2 separate regions of the Homo sapiens genome follow, and region 2 is linked to region 1. Evidence: fine-mapped expression QTL. Tissue or cell type: whole blood. Region 1 holds a variant in brackets; the other region holds the start of a gene. All regions are shown on one strand. Distances are between the middles of the regions.

Region 1 (8,260 bases):
GCGACCTGAGGAGGAGCAGCCTGGGGAAGAGGGGAGAGGTCAGATGGGTCGGTAGAAAAGGAAGATTGAAAAGACTCAGTGACGCTTGGGGTTGAGACTGAGGGGACAGGCAGGAGGGAAAGAAGGAGGATTTGGGACAAGTCGCATTAGGAACAGAGACTAGGGAGGGACCAATGTGTAAAAGAATGCCTGGATATCAGGTACCTCAGACCTTTGGCCCATTTTACGACAAGAATTATCTAGATCTTGTAGGATGGAAAAATCAAAATTGCCGTTTTCTGGCTATTTAGAACCATTGTCGAGTTTGTATTGGGGTTAAGCAGCATTGCAGAAGAAAATAAGGTGTTTAGGTTTTAGGTCAGGTGTGAGTTGAAGAGGTTTTAAGTTCTTGAGAACACAGGCTAAGGGAGAAGGAGGGTCGGACGGTGGAAGGTTGCCTATAGTGAAGGAGGCAAGCCCAGAGAAAAGAGAGAGTAGAGACATGGAGAGAAGGGGTGGGGGGTGCTTGCCCCCCAGGAAAGTGGTGCTTGCCACTAAGGGTGAAGGATCAAGGCAAGCGTCCCCGTGGTGATCAGACACCTCTGAAACGTGGGTGAATAATCAAGCAGGCGTCCCCGCAGTGATTAAACACCAAGGGAAGACTGTCTTCCCGAGTCCGTGACCAGCGCTGGGGTTTTGGGTTCACGTATAAAACACGTCTCCTCTGTCTCTACCAGAAAAGGAAAGGAACTGAAATTAAGAGAAGGGAGAGACTGAAGGGTGGCGCCAAGATTCAAAGGAGAAAGAGGTTGAGGGATAGTGAGAGAGGTTGTAGAAGAGAGTAAAAAGAGACTGCTTACCCAATTTAAAATTGGTGAAATATTCCTTGGACTGGTTGGTCTGAGGACCCGAGGTCATAGGTGGATCCTTCTCACGGTGCAAAGAGCAGGAGGACAGGGGATTTATCTCCCAAGGGAGGTCCCCTGATCCTAGTCACGGCACCAAATGTCACGCACGTCCGTGTGAAGAGACCACCAAACAGGCTTTGTGTGAGCAAAAAGGCTATTTATTTCACCTGGGTGCAGGTGGGCTGAGTCCGAAAACAGAGTCAGCAAAGGTGGGATTATCATTAGTTCTTATAGGTTTGGGATGGGCGTACAAAGTACATTCTCAAGGGCAGGGAGAATATTACAAAGTACCTTCTTAAAGGCGGGGGAGAATATTACAAAGTACCTTCTTAAGGACCAGGCAGAATATATCGTATCAGTTAGGGTGGGGCGGGAACAAATCACAATGGTAGAATGTCATCAGGTAAGACTATTTTCGCTTCTTTTTTGGATCTTCAGTTGCTTCAGGCCATCTTCATGTATATGTGCAGGCCCACAGGGGATATGATGGCTTAGCTTGGGCTCGGAGGCCCGACACTGGGATATGTAACCATTATTCTAGATGGCTATGCTAAACCCAGCATAATCAGAGGTTCCATTTTGTTGAGAAAGAAGGGGACAACGAATATTGGGCAACAATTTGTCATCTCTGCCACTGAAACCACTGCTTCTCTGTCCACTACATTTTATCAAAGGCAGAGTGTCTTGCAATCAGCTTGACTTGCAAGAGGCTCAAAGGCCTCTTGGAATGCCTTGCATCAGTTTGCTTTTGTGGCATAAAAAGTTACCCCAGGTGGGCGCAGTGGCTCACCCCTGCCTGTAATCCCAGCACTTTGGGAGGCTGAGGCGGGTGGATCACTTGAGGCCAGGAGTTCAAGACCAGCCTGGTCAGCATAGTGAAACCCCATCTCTACTGAAAACACACAAAAAGTAGCCAGGCATGGTGGCTGGTGCCTGTAATTCCAGTTACTTAGGAGGCTGAGGCAGGAGAATCACTTGACCCTCAGAGGTGGAGGTTGCAGTGAGCCGAGGTCATGCCACTGCATTCCAGCCTGGATGACAGAGTGGGACTTGGTCTCAAAAAAAAAAAGCAAAGAAAAAAGAAAAAAGTTACCCCAAATATTAGTGGCTTGAGTCAACAGTCATCTATTTAACTTATGGTTTGAGGGCTGGGCGCGGTGGCTCATGCCTGTAATCCCAGCACTTTGGGAGGCCAAGGCGGGCGGATCATGAGGTCAGGAGATTGAGACCATCCTGGCTAACACAGTGAAACCCCATCTCTACTAAAAATACAAAAAAATTAGCCAGGTGTGGTGGCAGGCGTCTGTAGTCCCAGCTACTCGGGAGGCTGAGGCAGGAGAATGGCGTGAACCCAGGAGGTGGAACTTGCAGTGAGGGGAGATCGCGCCACTGCACTCCAGCCTGGGAGACAGAGCGAGACTCCGTCTCAAAAAAAAAAAAAAAAATTATAGTTTGAGAGTTGGCAAATTGGGCTGGGCTCCGCTGGGAGTTCTTGTCTGGCTGATCTTGGCTGGACTTGCTCATGCATCTGCAGTCTCCTGGTGAATCAACAGGGGCTGGCTGTGGTCATCCCACTAGTGCCTCTTCATGTTCCCGCAGCTGGACCCAGATCCCTCCTGATTATAATGGCAGTGCTAAACTAACAGTGTCATTGAGGAGTTATGTTTGGCTGATAGTAAGAGACAGCTCCCCAAATAACAATAGTTTTGGTGAATTGGAGGTTTGTTTTCTCATATGTAACCTAAAAGACAAGAGGTAGGCAGTCCAGGGAAGGAAAGGCAGATCCCAACTGCCATCAGGAACTGAGGCTTCTAAGGCCAGGTGCAGTGGCTCATGCCTGTAATCCCAGCACTTTGGGAGGCCAAGGCGGGCAGATCATGAGGTCAGGAGTTTGAGACTATCCTGGCCAACATGGTGAAACCCCGTCTCTACTAAAAATACAAGAATTAGCCAGGCGTGGTGGCGTGCACCTGTAGTCCCAAGAGAATCGCTTGAACCCAAGAGGTGGAGGTTGCAGTGAGCTGAGATCATGCCGCTGCACTCCAGCCTGGGTGACAGAGCGAGACTCCATCTCAAAAAAAAAAAAAAAAAAAAGAAATTCCAGTTCTGGATTTGACAGTCCTCAGATTGAACCTTGTCTTGGCCAATTTCTAGCTCTGTGACTGGGGCTAGTCTCTTAGTCTCTGCCTCCTGGAGTTGATGAGATGATGTACATAAAATATCTGATAGGCATGTGATGTTGGCTGTGAGCATCTTCATATGCCACTCAAGAACATCATCTTTTGCTCTTGTCTTCCTGTGGTAAAGGTTTTGTTTTCACTTCTAGGGTCTGCTCTTTGCTCTCAATGGTAACAGTGGAATGTTGGTGCTTAACCTTGGAACTGCAGGCCCTCCTCACTGGTGTAAATAACCTCAGAAAGATAAGAAGAAAATGTTCCCACTTCTTCTGTAACAGCAGAAAAATAGATATTAGTCTGCACCATAAAGATGGTTCAGATAAGCAGGTGAAGTTAGAACATCCACAAAAGTATAAAATTGACTCTTCTGTCCTGTGTGGAGAGGGGTAAGAGTATTATAAGCCCATTCTGATTTCTGTTATTTTACTCTTTTTTGATTGCGCCAGTGCAATCCAGCCTGGGCGATGACAAGAGTGAAACTCCATCTCAAAACAAACAAACAAACAAACAAAAACAAACCATAAACACAAACTCATAAACAACATACATCCAGCCACAGACATGATTGCAAATACACACAATTATACATAAAGGCACAGAATACATACAGAACCAGAGCTACACGGTAACACCCTGAAGACCGACTTCTTGTTTTCCTGGGGGAAGGAGGTTGGTGTGTAAGTATGTGGAAAGTGTGGGGTTCAGGGACCACACCTAAGAGCCACCAGAACTATCCCTTTCTATAGAAACAGGCTTCGTGGCGGATGAAGACCCCATCTTGGGGTTCCACCAGATATTCCTACTAAAGAACATCAGCTGGGTGTGGTGGCTCATGCCTGTAATCCCAGCACTTTGGGAAGCTGAGGCGGGTGGATCACTTGAGGTCAGGAGATCGAGACCAGCCTGGCCAACATGGTGAAACCTTGTCTCTACTAAAAATACAAAAATTAGCCAGGCGTGGAGCACGCCTGTAATCCCAGCTACTTGGGAGGCTGAGGTAGGAGAATCACTTGAACCTGGGAGGCGGAGGTTGCAGTGAGCCGAGATCACATCACTGCACTCCAGCCTGGGCGACACAGTGAGACTCCGTCTCAAAAACAAAACAAAACCAAACAAAACAAAACATCAGCGATGCAATGATGCTTGGGTTTGCACCAATGATATGCAGGCTTGCTCTGCACAACTTCAGCTGACCTCCTCTCCACCGGGCCCTCACGCTGCCTCCTCTTCCCTCCTCTTTCCAGAACTATTGCCACTCCTCCAGATATGATGCACAAATGAGCAGGGTCGCAGTGGGAGTGGGCGCAGTGCGCTGATGCCACGGAGGTGTTGTGCATGACGTCTGGACACTAGACTAGCTGCATGTAATGGGAAAAGTTTGTGTTGTACCAGCGCATGCCTTGGAAAGACTTAAGTAATGCAAAAGGTTGTCCTTTAAAAAAAAAAAAAATCTGGCCGGTCGCGGCGGCTCACGCCTGTAATCCCAGCATTTTGGGAGGCCGAGGCAGTCGGATCACGAGGTCAGGAATTCGAGACCAGCCTGGCCAACATGGTGAAACCCCGTCTCTACTAAAAAACAAAAATTAGCCGGGCGTGGTGGAGCACGCCTGTAGTCCCAGCTACTCAGGAGGCTGAGGCAGGAGAATCGCTTGAACCCGGGAGGCAGAGCTTGCAGTGAGCCGACATCGCGCCACTGCACTCCAGCCTGGGCGACAGAGCAAGCCTCCGTCTCAAAAACAACAACAACAACAA[A/CAA]AAAAAACAAAACTACTGACAAGTTGCTCTACTTAACCCAAAGAAAGTGAAGGAGAAAGCGGCTGCCTCACCGCCTAGACATTGAGTCGCCGGATGTTTCAATGCCTCATGATACAATAAAACCACAAAAATTTTCGTAACAGCAGCAGCAACAACAACAACAAAAGAGAAAGAGAGAGGGAAAGAAACAGGCCTCGTGGGATGCGCAGTTTACGTCTCCGCGCAAACCCAAGGACTTCAGAGTGGGTGGGAAACTCCCACAGCGCTTGGGAAACAGTCTGTAGTCTCTGTCCCGATTTTGGCCCTTTTCTGTATGATTTTTATGGGACTCTTCCTGTCACAAAGTGCCAGCCACCTTCCCAATCTTGAGTTGGGCGCGGGATCCGTAAGGTGAAGATCAAGGTGTGCTCATCGCTTGGGCCCGCTGAAAGGTGATTCGCCCCCCACCTGCTGGAACTCCTTGCCCGGGACCACCAATCCCAGCATGCCTTGAGAGCGCGCGAGGGCCTGGGCGGTTCCCAGGAGGTCCGGGTGGGCGCAGGAGAAGCGCGGGCCAGTGAAAGCTCTGAGAGCCCTGTCCCTGTGGACACTGTGTCTTGGGTTCCTTTACTCGGTGTGGCTCAGGGATTACCATTAGGGAGTGGAGTGTGGATTTCTCTTGCCCCGAGCCCTAAATGCCTTGGGGCCCTGCCTTGCACCCCACTGTGCTTTTAGGGGTGTGGCCCTGTGGGCTACATTTCCCAGCGTGCCCTAGGATCGTGGTCCTGACCTTTTCACCGCAAATTTCATTTCCCAGCATGCCCTGCGAGGTCACCCAGGGAAGCTTGGAAGTGGACTGTCTTTCATGGCTTCTAGGTTGCGGACTCAGTTTCCCATGGTGCCCTGGTGAACCCATTCATTCATTCATTCCAAAAATATTTGCGATCAGGTTCTCTCAGGTTCTGTTCTAAGAACCGAGGACAAGTAGTGCACAGAAGACAAAAGATCCCGCTCTCGTGGAGCTTATTTCTAGTTAAGGGGTCAGGAAAAAAACCAAAATAAATAAAACCCAGCTGGGCATGGTGGCTTACGCTCGTCATCCCAGCAGGATTACAGGCCGAGGCGGGCGGATCATGAGGTCAAGAGATCAAGACCATCATGGCCAACATGGTGAAATCCCGTCTCTACTAAAAATATAAAAATTAGCAGGGCGGGGTGGCGCGCGCCTGTTATCCCAGCTACTCTGGGGACTGAGCCAGAATTGCTTGAACCTGGGAAGCGGAGGTTGCAGCGAGCCGATATCGCGCCACTGAACTCCAGCGTGGCGACAGAGCGAGACTCCGTCTCAAAACAAAGAAAACAAAATAAAACAACAATAACAAAACAACTCTGCCTCTCCCCGCACTCCCTCCCACGCGGCTGTCCAGTCGAATTCCTAACTGCCCCGGGGCAGTCTGCTATTCATCCCCTTTACCCGGTGCTACACACTTCCTAGTATGCCGTGGGGCACCCCTCCGGCCTGTAGACTCCATTTCCCAGCATTCCCCGGAGGAGGCCCTCATCTGGCGATTTCCACTGGGCGCCTCGGAGCTGCGGACTTCCCAGTGTGCATCGGGGCACAGCGACTCCTGGAAGTGGCCAAGGGCCACTTCTGCTAATGGACTCCATTTCCCAGCGCTCCCCGCGACCTGCCCAGCACACCCTGGGGCAGCGCCGTGACGTCAGCACGCCGGGCGGGGACCGGGAGATCCTTGGGGCGGTGGGGGGCCAGCGGCAGTTCCCGGCGGCCCCCGGGGCGGGCGGGCGGGCGGGTGGTGGCGGCGGTTGGGGCTCGGCGCTCGCTCGCTCGCTGGGCGGGCGGGCGGTGCGATGTCCGGAGAGGATGGCCCGGCGGCTGGCCCGGGGGCGGCGGCGGCGGCTGCCCGGGAGCGGCGACGGGAGCAGCTGCGGCAGTGGGGGGCGCGGGCGGGCGCCGAGCCTGGCCCCGGAGAGCGCCGCGCCCGCACCGTCCGCTTCGAGCGCGCCGCCGAGTTCCTGGCGGCCTGTGCGGGCGGCGACCTGGACGAGGCGCGTCTGATGCTGCGCGCCGCCGACCCTGGCCCCGGCGCCGAGCTCGACCCCGCCGCGCCGCCGCCCGCCCGCGCCGTGCTGGACTCCACCAACGCCGACGGTATCAGCGCCCTGCACCAGGTCAGCGCCCCCCGCCCGGCGTCTCCCGGGGCCAGGTCCACCCTCTGCTGCGCCACCTGGGGCATCCTCCTTCCCCGTTGCCAGTCTCGATCCGCCCCGTCGTTCCTGGCCCTGGGCTTTGCCACCCTATGCTGACACCCCGTCCCAGTCCCCCTTACCATTCCCCTTCGACCACCCCACTTCCGAATTGGAGCCGCTTCAACTGGCCCTGGGCTTAGCCACTCTGTGCTGACCACTCTGCCCCAGGCCTCCTTACCATTCCCCTTCGACCTACTCTCTTCCGCATTGGAGTCGCTTTAACTGGCCCTGGCTTTGGCAGCCTGTGCTGACCCATGCAGTCCTCCTTACCATCCCTCCCTCGACTTCCCCTCTTCCGATGTTGAGCCCCTCCAGCCGGTCCTGGACTTTGTCTCCTTCCCTGCCCTGCCCTCTCCTGAACCTGAGCCAGCTCCCATAGCTCAGTCTGGTCTATCTGCCTGGCCCTGGCCATTGTCACTTTGCGCTGCCCTCCTCTCGCCCCCGAGTGCCCTTGCTGTGCCGCCGGAACTCTGCCCTCTAACGCTGCCGTCTCTCTCCTGAGTCCGGACCACTTTGAGCTCTACTGGCTTCTGCGCCGCCTCTGGCCCACTGTTTCCCCTTCCCAGGCAGGTCCTGCTTTCTCTGACCTGCATTCTCTCCCCTGGGCCTGTGCCGCTTTCTGTCTGCAGCTTGTGGCCTGGGTCACCTCTACGGCTGGCCCAGATCCTTCCCTGCCGCCTCCTTCAGGTTCCGTCTTCCTCCACTCCCTCTTCCCCTTGCTCTCTGCTGTGTTGCTGCCCAAGGATGCTCTTTCCGGAGCACTTCCTTCTCGGCGCTGCACCACGTGATGTCCTCTGAGCGGATCCTCCCCGTGTCTGGGTCCTCTCCGGGCATCTCTCCTCCCTCACCCAACCCCATGCCGTCTTCACTCGCTGGGTTCCCTTTTCCTTCTCCTTCTGGGGCCTGTGCCATCTCTCGTTTCTTAGGATGGCCTTCTCCGACGGATGTCTCCCTTGCGTCCCGCCTCCCCTTCTTGTAGGCCTGCATCATCACCGTTTTTCTGGACAACCCCAAAGTACCCCGTCTCCCTGGCTTTAGCCACCTCTCCATCCTCTTGCTTTCTTTGCCTGGACACCCCGTTCTCCTGTGGATTCGGGTCACCTCTCACTCCTTTCATTTGGGCAGCTCCCCTACCCCCCTTACCTCTCTAGTCTGTGCTAGCTCTTCCAGCCCCCTGTCATGGCATCTTCCAGGGGT
Region 2 (8,000 bases), 30 kb before region 1:
GCTGGAGTGCAGTGACACCATCTCGGCTCACTGCAACCTCTGCCTCCCAGGATCAAGTGATTCTCATGCCTCAGCCTCCCGAGTAGCTGGGACTACAGGTGCACACCACCATGTTGTTGTTTTAATTTCTACAAATTTCTTTTTTAAATTAGCCAGTCACGGTGGTGGCATGCAGCTTCTCAGGAGGCTGAGGCAGGAAAATCGCTTGAGCCCATGAGATCGAGGGTGCAGTGAGCTATGACTGCACCACTGCACTCCAGCCTGGGCAATACAGTGAGACCCTATCTTAAAGAAGAAGACAGGAAAGATAGGAGTGGATGCCTGAAACCATGGATTGTACTGAACCCTATATGTAATTTTTTTTCCTATACACACATACATACCTATGATAAAGTTTCATTTCTAAATTAGACACAGTAAGAGATTAACAATAAATAACAACAAAAGAAGGTTGGGCGTGGTGGCTCATGCCTGTAATCTCAACACTTTGGGATGCTAAGGCAGGCAGATTGCTTGAGCTCTGGAGTTCGAGACCAGCCTGGGCAACATGGCGAGACCATGTCTCTATAAAAAATACCAAAGTTACCGGGTGTGGTGGCTCGTGCCTGTAATCCCAGCGCTTTGGGAGGCCAAGGCGGGCGGATCATGAGGTCAGGAGTTTGAGACCAGCCTGGCCAACACAGTGAAACCCCACCTGTAGTAAAAATACAAACATTTGCTGGGCGTGGTCGTGGGTGCCTGTAATCCCAGCTACTTGTGAAGCTGAGGCAGGAGAATTGCTTGAACCCGGGAGGCAGAGGTTGCAGTGAGCCGAGATCTCACCACTGCACTCCAGCCCAGGCAACACTGGGAGACTCCATCTCAAAACAAAACAAAACAGAACAAAAGTTAGCTGGGCATGGTGGCACACACCTGTGGTCCCAGCTCCTCAGGAGTCTGAGGTGAGAGGATGGCTTGAGCCCAGGAAGTTGAGGCTGCAGTGAGCCGAGATTGCACGACTGCACTCCAGCTTGGATGAGGCAGCCAGACCCTGTCTCAAATAATAATAATAATAAAATAGAACAATTATAACAGATTGTAATAAAACTCATGAATGTGGTCTCTTTCTCAAAATATCTTATAGCACTGTAATCACCCTTCTTTTCCTTGTGATGTAAAATGACAGTGCCTATGTGCTGAGATGAGGTGAGGTGGATGACATAGGCATTATGACCTGGCGTTAGGCTACTATTGACCTGAGAATCCATCAAACTTATGAATTGTTTATTTCTGGAATTTTCCATTTAATATTTTTGGGCCATGGTTTACCTCAGGTAACTGAAACCACACAAAGTAAAATTGCAGAAAAGGAGGGACTACTATAATAAGAAGAGAAGGAAGGAGACAGGAAGGGCATAAGGCAGACAGGAAGTGGAGGGGAAAGATAGGAAGTGCAGGAAGGAGACAGGAAGTGGAGGGGAAAGACAGGAAGTGCATGAGGGAGACAGGAAGTGGATGGGGAAAGACAGAAAGTACATGAGGGAGACAGGAAGTGCTGGGGAAAGACAGGAAGTGCATGAGGGGGACAGGAAGTGCATGAGGGAGACAGGAAGTGCATGGGGAAAATTGGCAGGGATTATCTTGAAAAGACAGGAAGTGCTCCAGAACTAGATACTTAGGCATCCAGGGTAGAGTGGCCCCACAGGCTGGAGGGAAGACAGGGATTCTTGAGAGACTGGAGACCAAGAAGAGACCCTAACCTCTGACTCATCGCCATCCTCCAGGAAAACCGGGAGGTGGGAGACTGGCGCAAGAACATCGATGCACTGAGTGGAATGGAGGGCCGCAAGAAAAAGTTTGAGAGCTGAGCCTTCCTGCCTACTGCCCCTGCCCTGAGGAGGGCCCTGAGGAATAAAGCTTCTCTCTGAGCTGAAAGTGACTCCATGTCTATTACCCAGGGCTTAGGCAGGAGACAGATGGGAAGACTGCAGGTGGGGCTCCCCCAAAGCCACACAGCAGGTTGGGGACCAGATGGGTCTCCCATGTGAAGCACTCTTGGCTGTGTTATTGAAAAGAATCCCGGGGTTCATGAATTTGGAGAGCGGAGCTTTGTTTCTTAAGAAGCGGATCACAACCTGAAGACCAGAAGCATGGCTTCTTGCCAAAAAACAAAAGCAGGCACTTTAAGGGAGGGAAGGGCAAGGCAGGAATTTATGCTGAGTGGGTTAGCTAAGTGCACGTATTCAACTGGTTATAGAAGGAGCTATGAATATTCATGGACAGGTGGACACATGGACACACGCATGTGTGACAAGCAAACACTCATTTTTTTTTTTTTTTGAGACGGAGTCTTGCTCTGTCACCCAGGCTGGAGTGCAGTGGCACGATCTCAGCTCACTGCAACCTCTGCGTCCTGGGTTCAAGCCATTCTCCTGCCTCAGCCTCTCCAGTAGCTGGGATTACAGGCATGCACCACCACGCCCAGCTAATTTTTGTGTTTTTCGTAGAGACGGGGTTTCACCATGTTGGCCAGGCTGGTCTCGATTTCCTGACCTCGTGATCCGCCCTCCTTGGCCTCCCAAAGTGCTGGGATTACAGGCGTGAGCCACCGCGACTGGCCGCAAACACATTTTACATGCATCCCACCTTCACTTGGTGGTGGAGGCTTAACATTTAAGTGCATTCCATTGAATGCATTCGTATCGAAACACGAAGCAGGGATATGAAGACACTCAGTGCACAGCCTCTGTCAACAGCCAGAACCAGTCCGTGGTCTGCGGCATCTTATCAGGAGAAAGTTACTGAAATCAGTCTCTTGTTCAACTAATGCTGTAGTTATGCCTTGTGGAACAGGGGGTTCAGCTAGTCAGCATCTGGCAATGGATGGCTGCAATGGTTGTAATATTGCTTATCTTGAGGCCGGTGCTTGTTTAGCTGCTAGAAAAAGGAAAAGCCTTGTGGCAGTTGGAACATAGTCGATTATATAAGTGTAGGGATGCGTGGCTTAACCCTTGCCTGGCATGGCCTTAGGTCTTGTTTATAATTTGGTATCTTATTGCCACAAACAGTTCATTCCATCAGTCTTCTGATCTCTATTGTCACAGCTCCTCTGGCCCATGTGGAGTGCACAGAGATGCCAAGACTAAAGGTCAAAGAGAGAGAGACACAGAGAAACAGACAGGCAGAGAGACATGACCGACAACAGAGAGACTGAGTTGGGAGTAGAGAGAGTAGGAGCCAGGCAAAGACCCAAAGAGAGAGGGAGAAAATACCACAAGATGCATAGAAGGAAGTGCAAAGAAAGGAGAAAAGAGAGACAGAGATATACTCACAGCAAGGTGCAGAGACATGGAGACCCTATAAGAGATGGAAATGGAGAGCCACAGAGGGGGAACTGCGGGCACTAAGAGAGACATGGAGAGAACTAGAAAGATAGAGACGTGAACACAGACACAGAGACCCAGAGCCAAAAAGAGACAGAAATGGGGTCATAGGTGGACAGAAATGCACAGAGAGACTGTGAGCCCCCACAGACACAAACGCTGAGAGGGGCAGACATGCAGAGACACCCACAGAAATGCAGAGACAAAACCACCCGGAGACACATGCCGAGAAACACACTGAGGGGCTCAGAAAGCGACAGATGCAGAGAGAGCCCAAGACAGACCCAGCAAGGGGCCCCGAGAAATGCACAGAAACACAAAGACCGAGACCACCAGAGACAGAGGTACGGAGAGGCGGGGAGGGTGAGGAAGCCTGCTCTCCAGGGCTGGCTTGAACCTAGAACTCAAGGTCATGGCTTGGCTGGGAAGCGGGAGGGGGATACCAAAAAAGATCAGCGTTAGATGGAGGTGGGGAGGGAGGGTAGGTTTCACCCTAATTGACACCCCACCCTCCCCCTCCCCCTCCCCACACCTGCTTCCCGGCTTTAGTGCCTGTTGTCACCAGGATGGAATCCTGGCGGCAGACAAAGGGGTGGGGGTGGGAGGAGGAGACAAAAAGATGGACAGAGACAGAGGAGGAGACTAAGAAGTAGAGACAGACACACAGAGACACACAGATGGAGAGCCACAGAGACAACAGAAATGGGGGTCCAGAAAGAGACCTAGATAGAAAGAGGGAACAGAGAGAAGAAAACAGGAAACATTCCTTATAGCCCATGTGTCATTAGTAGGTCCTCCAAGGACCTACTGTGTGCCGGGCATGGGGACGTCAAAGCACAGGGAGCTATAAGGGAGGTAGTTGGAGCACCACGGGAGCCTGGGGTGTGGGGTGGGAGCAGGGGCGGGGCTCCTGGGCCATGCAGATGGGGTTGGCATGGGGTTGGGGAGGGGCCCACGGAGGCTTCTGGACTCTGAGTGTGGAGCCAGGGGCAGCAGGGCTGTCTCTGAACTCCCAGGCTTGTGTTTGAGCAAAGGAATTCTCTCCCCCTCCCTCTCCCCTCGGGGCGGGCCCGAGCCTCCAGCTATAAACTCCCCGGAGCTTCAGTGCCCTCAGCAAGGCTCAGCCTCAAGATTCACAGCATCTCAGACACAGCCTAGGTAAGGGGCTCTGCGGAGCCCTGTGGTCTTCAAAAACCATGTCCTTGGGGGAGGGGGCAGGAGGCAGGTGGGGAAGATGTCGGGTGTGGAGAAATGGTGCAGAGGTAGGTGGGGCATACAACTGGAGGTCTGGGAACTTGAGAGGCTCAGACTTTAGGGGGACTCAGGATAGAGGGGAAAATACTAGGATTTGTGGGTTACACAAATCCTAACCCGGGGCTGCCAGGACTTGGATGTCCCAGAATAAAACCTCCTAGGATCTTGGGGTTCTGGGAATCTGGGGGAAATCTCAGCAGTCAGGGATATCTGGACTTGGAGGTCAAACAATCTGGGTGTCAGGATTTGGGGCCTCAGACTCTGAGGGTATCAGGAATTGGGGGGGTCTCAGAAGAAATTGGGGTTTTGGTAGTGGAGGGCTCGGAATCTGAGACATTATGATAGAAAGCATGAAAACTTAGAGTGCCATTATCTGGGGTATCATGAACTGGGCCTCCGAGTTTGGGTATCAAGATTTTGGGGGTCTCATATTCTTGAGGTTTCAGATTTTAGGAGGTCTCAAGACCTGGGGGTGGTCTTAGGATGTCCCGGCCCATATCTGGACTATCAAGAACTGGGATTTCAGAATCCAGAGCTGTGAGGACTTGCTGGCCTCAGAAACACGGGCATCATAAATCGGGGTCTCAGAATCTGTGGGTATTGGGATTTGGGGCTAGGCACCCTGTGGCCTAGGGTGTCTCAAAGACTTTGAGGTCTAAGAATGTAGGGGTCAGGGTGAGGTCTACGGACAGAAGGTGCCCTTTATGCCCCTGCCCCCTACGTGATGTATGGGAAGGTGAAAGGGGAGACAGGTGGGGAGGAAACCAGCCAGTGGGGTGGGGCGAGTGGGAGAGGGGATGCGGGTGACTAATTCTCCCAGAAGCCCCCCTTCCTCAAATCCCTTCTTAGGAAATGTCCTCGGTTTCACCATCTATGACATCCCCCCAAAATAGCTCCTGGGGGTGGGGCAGCTATTGTCTTCAGGCCACTGTCCCTTCTCAAATGCCTCTTCCTAATCCCAACTGGATCAGGTTCCCATGGACTTGTCATAAGACAAAAGAGGACAGCTGTGCTGAGGGGGCAGGGTCTGCAGCCTCCTGGCTGTGCCAGGACCACACCTACCAAGGTCTGTCCTCATGCATGCTTTAGGACAGCCGGCCCCCTCCCTCAGACCCAAGAGTCCAGACCTGAGCCCTCCTCCCTCAGACGCAGGAGTACAGGCCCCCAGCCCGCTCCTCCCTCAGACTCAGGAGTCTAGACTCCCAGCCTCTCCTCCCTTAGATCCAGGAGTCCAGGCCCCAGCTCCTCCTCCCTCAGACCCAGGAGGCCAGGCCCCCAGACCCTCCTCCCTCAGACCCAGGCGTCCAGGCCCGCGGCCCCTCCTCCCTCAGACCCAGGCGTCCAGGCCCCTGGCCCCTCCTCCCTCAGATCCAGGAGTCCAGACCCCAGCCCCTCCTCCCTCAGACCCAGGTGTCCAGGACAACCCATCTCAGTCTCAGGAGTCCACACCCACCCTCCCACACACCCCCCAGCCCCTCCTCCCTCAGACCCAGGAATCCGGCCCCCAGCCCCTCCTCCCTCAGATCCAGGAGTTCAGGACCCCAGTCCCTCCTCCCTCAGACCCAGAAGTCCAGGCCCCAGCCCCTCCTTCCTCAGACCCAGGAGTCCAGGCCCCAGCTCCTCCTCCCTCAGACCCAGGAGTCCAGACCCCAGCCCCTCCTCCCTCAGACCCAGGAGTCCAGGCCCCCAGCCCCTCCTTCCTCAGACCCAGGAGTCCAGGCCCCAGCTCCTCCTCTCTCACACCCAGGAGTCCAGACCCCAGCTCCTCCTCTCTCACACCCAGGAGTCCAGACCCAGGAGTCCAGGCCCCCAGCCCCTCCTCCCTCACACCCAGGAGTCTAGGTCGCCCCCTCCTTGGGGCCCCACCCCACTGGGCCTCTTCTCTCTGGTCCTTAGGCCGCACCAGGATGTCGGACACCGAGGAGCAGGAATATGAGGAGTGAGTGCTGCACTGGGAGGGGTTGGGGCGTGCAGTGGTGGAGAGGCTCTCCCACCCCAGGTCTAACTCTCCCCTCCCTCCTCTCTCCCCACACCCGTCCGCAGGGAGCAGCCGGAAGGTGAGTAGGGAGTGGGCCGGCCCTATGGGATGGGGACACGCCCAGGAGCTCTTGGGAGGGGAGGCGAGGAGTGTGGCACTTTGGCGGGGAAGGGGCGGCTCAGCCCTCGGGCCCTCGCCCGCCCTCTCCGGGTCTGGAGCGTCTCCTCGCGCCATCCCTGCACCGCCAGGGGGAACGTGCCCATCGCAGCCGAGGCCAGAGGGACCCCCGTCCAGCAGAGACTGGAACCCTGGTCTCTGGCCACCGCCCCCATCCCTCCCCCAGCTCCTAACGCCTTCTCTTCTGTGCCCCCATCTCCAGAGGAGGCTGCGGAGGAGGAGGAGGAAGGTGAGGTCCCGGACTCCGCAGGTCTGGAGCTGGGGGGTGGGGGGGCGGGGACGCTGGGCCCGGGAGGAGGGGGCGGGATGGGGCTCCCGACGGCCTCGGCTCCCGGTCCTCTAACAGCCTCTCACGTCTCTTCCCTCTCTCCCCTCCCGCGCCCGGGCGTGGCCGCTCCCCCCTCGCTCCCCAAACCCTCGCTGCTCCTCCCTCCCCTCCCCAGCCCCCGAAGAGCCGGAGCCGGTGGCAGAGCCAGGTAACCGCGGCTGCTTCGCTTCCCGAGACCGATGTCGGGGGCCCGGGGGGACCCCCGATATCCTCGGGCCCCAACCTCCAAGACCACCCTTCCCTCCCTCCGCCCCCATAACCCGCCCCCAGGCCCGGTCCTTTAAGCCCCTGAGAGCTCCTGCGCCCTCTCGGGGCCGGGAAGGGAAATGGCCCCGCAGTGGCTTTAACCCTTTCCCTTCCTTCTTAAAGGGACCGACACCCAAGCCTTCTTCCCCAGTCTGGAGGAATCTTTACAGAAGGGTTGGATGTTTGCGGAGAAGCACCACCCCATCCCCCCTTATCTTCGCCTCCAACCTTGTCTGTTATTTTCTCCCCCATATACATTCAAAGGTTGGGGCTTGGAATTTAGGATTGCAGAGGAGGCGAGCGCTGGGAGTCAGGGTCTCCAAGGTCGGGCCGGGGGCGGGGGGGCGGTGGGGCGGTGGGCAGGGGGCGAGCTGGGGAGAGAGCGCTGGGGTCACTGAATGAAGACAGAGGTTGGGACCCCCTGCACTGCTGGGTCCTAATGGAGGAGAGCAGGAGCTCTGGGCATATAAATAGAGAAAGGTCTGGGGGTTTGCACTCCTGGGTGTGCAGACAGTGGGGGTGGGGGGTCCCCACACCAGTTCTGAATGTATATCTGATGCGTGTGACCCTCTTCCTCCTTTACAGCCACCCTGACTTTCCTTCCCTCTTTTCTTCTCCCCATCCCCCCTCCTCCAGAACTGGACTCCAGAGTCCT

The links. PIP is the estimated chance that this variant, and not a neighbour inherited with it, causes the effect.
Region 2: TNNT1 starts here. The variant in region 1 is fine-mapped to the expression of TNNT1 in whole blood (INTERVAL, PIP above 0.99).

The regions. Positions count from the first base shown.
Region 1 is chr19:55,115,948-55,124,207 of GRCh38, reverse strand. It overlaps PPP1R12C (protein phosphatase 1 regulatory subunit 12C), which reads left to right and starts at 6,571. Exons shown (of 22, transcript NM_017607.4): 1 at 6,571-6,985. The coding sequence starts at 6,665. It overlaps MIR7975 (microRNA 7975), which reads left to right and starts at 916; the gene lies at 916-983. RefSeq lists enhancers at 3,188-3,277, 6,216-6,495, 7,456-7,535, 7,936-7,985, 7,340-8,175 and silencers at 6,556-6,635, 6,826-6,905, 6,926-7,025. The variant A/CAA (reference allele first, on the strand shown) is at 4,817.
Region 2 is chr19:55,145,681-55,153,680 of GRCh38, reverse strand. TNNT1 (troponin T1, slow skeletal type) reads left to right here and starts at 4,475. Exons shown (of 14, transcript NM_003283.6): 1 at 4,475-4,520; 2 at 6,513-6,555; 3 at 6,660-6,673; 4 at 6,974-7,000; 5 at 7,215-7,247. The coding sequence starts at 6,524. TNNI3 (troponin I3, cardiac type) reads left to right here. Exons shown (of 8, transcript NM_000363.5): 8 at 1,764-1,914. The coding sequence ends at 1,847.